2 linked regions of the Homo sapiens genome follow. The protein of the gene in region 1 purifies or fractionates together with the protein of each later gene. This does not show direct contact. Each region holds a gene or a part of one and is shown in the gene's direction. Other genes may lie near its edges.

Region 1 (3,500 bases):
TTAAGAGCCTACTGTGTGGCAGATGATGAAATAAGACTATTTTCCTATGACTTGACTTTCCAACAGGAATTTCTATCGGATTTGTATTTTTTTCTCTAATTTGATAAAAGCCCAAGAATATATTTTATCCTATTTTCAGACTGAGTCAGTGTTGAAATAAATGTAGGTTTTGGTTTGTTAAAGTGCCTAACATAATGTTACAACACAAATGCAAAGCAATTAAAGTTTATAATTGCTTCATGACATACATAGAAAGAATAGTTTTACATATGTGATTCACTAAAATTATCCCTCAGTTTCCCAAAAGTATAGTATATATGTTAGCTGTATATTTTGCAGATGATAGAAATTTGAGTTCACCACATCCATCCCAACCAGCTGCTATTGGGACATTAGGACAAATCAATAGAGGGGAATAACCATAAAAATTTTGCCTGTGAAAGTGTACCTTTATGGTGTTGGTGAAAGCACAATGAACAGGAAATAAGGAAGCTGACATTCTCAGCCACCTATAAAGTAAAGGGCTTCATTAGACCATCCTTGAAAAGTAAGTTCTGGAATTTGATTATCTCTGACTATAAATGATATTCTCATATTTTGTCATTTTGCATTTTCCCTGGCTTTTTATTCTCTTCTCTTCTTTAGTTATTACCTGAGCTGTCTACATTTACAGTGTAAAATGCTGGAATAATTTCTCCAGGAGTTCATATTTGAAAGACCTCATAGGGTTTTATTATATTTCCATGAAAAGAAAAAATCATTCATATCTCTCTTAATATTGCAGATCCTGTCACAAAGCCAGTGGTGCAGATTCATCCTCCCTCTGGGGCTGTGGAGTATGTGGGGAACATGACCCTGACATGCCATGTGGAAGGGGGCACTCGGCTAGCTTACCAATGGCTAAAAAATGGGAGACCTGTCCACACCAGCTCCACCTACTCCTTTTCTCCCCAAAACAATACCCTTCATATTGCTCCAGTAACCAAGGAAGACATTGGGAATTACAGCTGCCTGGTGAGGAACCCTGTCAGTGAAATGGAAAGTGATATCATTATGCCCATCATATATTGTAAGTTTATTTTTTTTTAACTCATGAGTTGTTTTTTGTTGTTTTCTGAGAATATCTCCCAGGATAGTCACAGAGAATATAAGTACCAGATGTCATTTGGCTTTTTACCATTATTGTAGTTCAATAGTTCTAATCACACCTCCTAGGCACTGTCTTGTATGAAATATGTCTGCTAGCACAATCCTATTTCTTAAAGATCAAGTTGAAATACTGGCCAGGGGCCACTCAGGTTGTATTTCGTGATTCAGTCTATTGTGCGACCTCATTTCCAGCGGAAAGCAAGATTCTCAATTTCAAGAACCCAGAACAATGCAGAGGCTGCAATGAAAAAAACTGAAAGAATATCTTGAGAACTTTTTTCCTCTCCAAATATTACCATTCCTGAATTTAACATACTTTATTCTTCTCTTGTAAAATATTTTCTTTACATCAATTCTTTCTTCTAGCTCTTTATCTGTATGTCTTCCCATCCCTACCTGCCTGTCTTTAAACTCTAGCCATAGGTTTAAATGAAAAAGTCCTGGGGAAATTTACTTAAGCAATTATAGGCAAATGCAAATATCATTTTTGACATATACTTTTGTTTTGCTATACAGTTCATATTAATCTGGCAAAATGAAAATAACATCTTTCTTTCAACATGTGCAAGTCTATGCACCAATCTCATTATTATCACAGAATATGCTGTGATACACAGTGTGGAAAATATAAAAATGGGAGAGAAAACCATAATCAAACCTGCAAATGTTAAATATTATGCTTTAGGCTCCTAAGCCTTCTTTCCTTCACGATGTTATTTGAAAGAATGAGAATACCCCAATTTGAGTAAGTTCACACTTTACAGAATCTATCTTTTGCTGACAGACTGAACTTTCTTCTTTACATTATTTTAAACATTACCTATGAAAATCTCATAGAGAAACACCTATCACATGCAAAGACTAACGACAGATAATAGAAAGAAGAACATTTAGACAATTTACAAATGTGGCTTCCATTTACACATTGTAAAGATGAATTATCTACATGGCTTAAGAAAGATTTTGACTCATTAATTGGTAATTGTGAACATTGCATTACTAATTTTTGTCTTCACTATTTTTACTTTCAAATGCAGAATTCTTCACTTGGTCAACATCTCATCTTATTGATATTCATTCATTCACTTACTTATTCATTTATGCACTCATTCATTTATAGATTATTTGATTTTAAAAAATGAAACATCAGGGTCTTGTTTGTGCTAAACAATTACTACCTACCATATAACATGTACAAACACAACCCAGACCCATTAATTTAATAATTTTTCTTGCTATCACTATTTTAGCCCTGTTTTTGTTCTGGTTGGTTGGTTTTGTTGCTTTTGAGTAACAAAAATTAAATAAAATATATACTGTAATCTGAAGATTGGTTGTATATCCTATCTGTGGATGTGGCATCCAAATGTTTACAATCTTTATCATTCCCTGCAAGCTGGGAATATGTGCCTTGGTTGGTGTTATTCACACTTCTCTTTCTTCATCTGGTTGCCTTCTTCTTGCCTCATGACATCATCATCCTTTCCAGAAAGGTTTACCTGCCTCCACTTATCTCACCTCCTCAGTGTCACTAACAGGTTCATTGTGCTCCTTCAGCATCCTAGGCACTCTCATTCCGGGTCCTCACTGCTTTATATTTTCCTTGACTCTTGTGAACACCCCAAACCCAAACCAGAGTTCTGCATTCTTCATCTTTGTATCCATAGGGCAATAGCTGACAGAGATTAAGAAATCAATAAAGTTTCTTGAACTTAACTAAAATGGAACAGATTATCTTTCTTCATATCCCTTTTAGATTCCAGTGTTACTTGACGATGCTGTAAAAAGGCTAAATTCTCATTATAAGGTGACAGCTTCTTCATTATAGTGCTTTGGCACTTTTTTTTCCTGACCTTTAGCAAAATCAAGTATTCTGTTTTCTAAAGGCACTGTTTCTGTGAAGGGTTTTTTCATGAAAGTAGGAACTATTTTTTATTTTGGCAGAAAAAGTATAATAAAATCTATTAAGATTGACTATATACTTATGAGGTTGTGATGTCATAATCTGGTATTGGCCTTGGTGGAATACAATGTCAAGCCAATAACTCAGACAAGTATCTACTTGCAGTTCATGATATGCCTTCAAGCTCCAGTTGTAAATAATAACCCAGTAACCACTGCATTTTGTGTGCAACATATGGCAATGCTGCAGTGGAGAGCTCTAAGTGATAAAAATTAAAGGGGAAAAAAGGTCATTCACAGTAAATACTTACCATCTGCTCCCAAGCAGGGCGGCAAACAGCATCATGATGTAAATTTAGGCACTGTTCCCACACAGCCATAAATTGTTAAAGAGAACAGATGATATGTGATTTTACAAGTCATTTAGTAAACAGCCATCCCCAAGGCAA
Region 2 (3,500 bases), on another chromosome or scaffold:
CTTTTTTCTATAAAGGTTCAGCGAACTATTGCCAAACAGATTCAGATGGTCCGGCAAGTTGGTAAAGGCCGATATGGAGAAGTATGGATGGGCAAATGGCGTGGCGAAAAAGTGGCGGTGAAAGTATTCTTTACCACTGAAGAAGCCAGCTGGTTTCGAGAAACAGAAATCTACCAAACTGTGCTAATGCGCCATGAAAACATACTTGGTGGGTACACACTGATTCAGTCAATTTCATTTTTGACAAGGCTAGTGAGGTACAGGTGGAAGCCTCCATATGTGCTTTGAAAATGTGTGAGTTCAACTATATACATTTGGCTAAAGGAAACCTAGTAGAATACACGGTTTGAATAAAACATAGTCCGGAATGCCAACCAAGATCTTTCTTTACTAACCAGCTGAAGAAACAGCAGTGAGTTTCAAATGGAAAATAATACTAGTTTATTGGACTTACTCCCATAGTAATGAAAACCCAGTCTTTTATAGATAACTTAAGCAGTGATTTAGGGTAACATTAACATATGTGCCTTTTCCCTTTCATAAGCTCAACAGCCCAACATGCAGTTTCATTGTACGTTCTGTGTTTAATGTGTGTTTCCCCCCATCTCCACATTTACACAATAGCAAAGTAATTTAGGTGTGAGCTGGTCAGTCAGGTACATAAGCCGATCTGGCTATCCTGAGTTTTCTTTTCCCTTCACCTCTTGTTTTCCTCCCTTTAATTTGGAGAGCCCATAGCATGTTGCCAAGCAGGCAATTGTATTAGTTTCCTAGGGCTGCTGTATCAATTACCACAAACTGGGTGGCTTCAACCTCCAAAACGTATTCACTCAGTTTTCGAGGCTAGAAGTTTAAAACCAAGGTGTTGGCAGAGCTGTTGTGTCTCTGAATACTCTAGAGGAGGAGCCTTCCTTGCCTCCTCTGGCTACTGGTTGGTGGCCAGGAATTTTTGGTGTTCCTTGGCTTAGTATAGACAACACTCTAGTCTCCATTTCTGTCATCAGGTGGCCTTCTCCCTGGGTGCCTGGGTCCACATTTCCACCTTACAACATCACCAGCCATTGAATTCGGGCCCACGCTAATCCTGTATGAGTCATCTTAACTTGATTACATCTGCAAAGACCCTCTTTCCAAATAAGGTCACGTTTATAGATGACATGGATTTTAGACATGAATTTTGTCGGGGAGCACTGTTCAGCTCAGTACATAGCACTCACTGACCTTTTTCTGGAGGGAAGAGGGTAGGAGAGAAAGGAAAAGAGCAGGACTGTGGGCCTGGCAGTCAACGAGCCAGACTGAAAAGGCAGCTGTGATGAGTCACTGATGGGCAAATGGGAGTTGGCTTAATTAGGAGCTAACTCTTAGTTGAACATTCTTAATTTTATAAAAGTGTCCACTTTTTGCTTTGAAATTGAGAGCCTTTTCTACTAGAGAATCATGTAGGTTGATAATATTCTCCAGGTTATTTGTATAATATGTCATCTTTTTCTTTTCTTTCCTTTTCTTTTCTTTTTTTTTTTTTTGAGACGGAGTCTCATTCTGTCGCTCAGGCTGGAGTGCAGTGGCGCCATCTTGGCTCACTGCAACCTCTGCCGCCAGGTTCAAGTGATTCTCTTGCCTCAGCCTCCAGAGTAGCCGGGACCACAGGCACTTGCCACCATGCCCAACTAATTTTTGTATTTTTAGTAGAGACGGGGTTTCGCCCTGTTGGCCAGGCTGGTCTCGAGCTCCTGACCTCAAGTGATCCTCCTGCCTTGGCCTCCCAAAGTGATACAGGTGTGAGCCACCACACCCAGCATATATGATCTTTTTCTTAATCCTATTCACTTTCATGATTATTAAGATTATTATAAATTTATTGTAGAAGTACAGATATATGTGTAAATGTAGAAATATAATTTTTAGTAACACATTCACGACTTGGTGTCAGGCGAATTAAAGTTTCACTATCTGCACATGATACCTAAGTTTTTCTCAGTATCCAGAATGAGCATTACTTCTCCCTAGCCTATCTCTGATGATAACTAACCTTTTAAACTCATCAACTGGACAGGTTTCATAGCGGCAGACATTAAAGGTACAGGTTCCTGGACTCAGCTCTATTTGATTACTGATTACCATGAAAATGGATCTCTCTATGACTTCCTGAAATGTGCTACACTGGACACCAGAGCCCTGCTTAAATTGGCTTATTCAGCTGCCTGTGGTCTGTGCCACCTGCACACAGAAATTTATGGCACCCAAGGAAAGCCCGCAATTGCTCATCGAGACCTAAAGAGCAAAAACATCCTCATCAAGAAAAATGGGAGTTGCTGCATTGCTGACCTGGGCCTTGCTGTTAAATTCAACAGGTGAGTGGTTCTTTGCCCCACTGTTTTGAAATTATTTTAATTTCCAAAAGATATTTCCCTATTTGTATTCAAGATAATGGAATTCTAAAAATGTGCATATGCTTGTTTTTAGTTACATAAATGTATAGTTGGGGGGGATTTTGTTCTTTTTACAAAAATTGTGTCCTACTTCTCCTATACATAATTCTTGATATATATATATTTTTTTGGTGTTTTTTTTTGTTTGTTTTTTGTTTTTTGTTTTTTGTTTTTTTTAAAGACAGTGTCTCACTCAGTTGCCCAGGCTGGAATATAGTAGTGTGATCTTAGCTCACTGCAACCTCGACCTCATGGGCTCAAGCAATCCTCCCACCTCAGCCTCCTGAGTAGCTGGGACTACAGGCATGCACTGCCACACCTAGCTAATGTTTTTATTTTTTGCGGAGATGGGGTCTCACTGTGTTGCCTAGGCTGGTCTCAAACTCCTAGGCTCAGCTGATCCTCCCAAAGTGCTGGGATTACAGGTGTGTGCCATATAGTCTTAGCCATCCTTCCATTTCAGCTGATGTAAATCTACTTCATTCTTTTTAACAGATGCAGAGTTTTCCATATGTGGAGGTACTGTAGTTTATTCTTAAGACCCAACTGATGAACATTAAAGGTGTCTTCAGTTGATTATGAAAAGGTTTTTTAATGAACATTGTTGTATTTTAACCATATATTATATATTTGATCCTTGTGCACTTGTACAAGCATTTCTTCATGATGGATTCCTAGAGAAGGGCCTGCTGAGGCAGTGAGTTTATACATATTAAACTATGGTATGTTGCATATTATTTCTTTCAGCAGTGTGCCTCAGTTTACACACCCGTAAGCAGTAGAGATAAGGATGTCATTTTTCTGTCACCACTTGATAGTGTCAGTATTTTAAAACAAATGCAAGTGTTAGAAATTACAAATTTTTAGGAAACCTTTGAAACCATTTTAATCTTGTAATTCTAGAATGGAGTGGCTGCTTTACATTTCAGAATTCATTTTAGGCTGTAATATAAAAGTACCAGTCTTTAAAACAACTGTAAGAGACATTTAAATCTGTTACAGTGTTCTGAGTCAGTGTAGTATTTGTTGGCTCAGATATTTATCAGATGCTATAGGAAAATACAACGCATT

What was found. Proteins that work in one complex are often made in the same cells at the same time.
Region 2: the proteins of HEPACAM2 (region 1) and BMPR1A purify together in Homo sapiens (affinity purification with mass spectrometry; 3 studies listed by BioGRID and IntAct, with this or other methods). This does not show direct contact.

Annotation. Positions count from the first base shown.
Region 1 is NC_000007.14:93,212,970-93,216,469, reverse strand, and holds part of HEPACAM2 (HEPACAM family member 2 isoform 1 precursor), read left to right. Parts: intron 1-784; coding exon 785-1,069; intron 1,070-3,500. UniProt on the Homo sapiens protein: Required during prometaphase for centrosome maturation.
Region 2 is NC_000010.11:86,917,119-86,920,618, forward strand, and holds part of BMPR1A (bone morphogenetic protein receptor type-1A isoform 3 precursor), read left to right. Parts: intron 1-15; coding exon 16-208; intron 209-2,053; coding exon 2,054-2,351; intron 2,352-3,500. UniProt on the Homo sapiens protein: On ligand binding, forms a receptor complex consisting of two type II and two type I transmembrane serine/threonine kinases.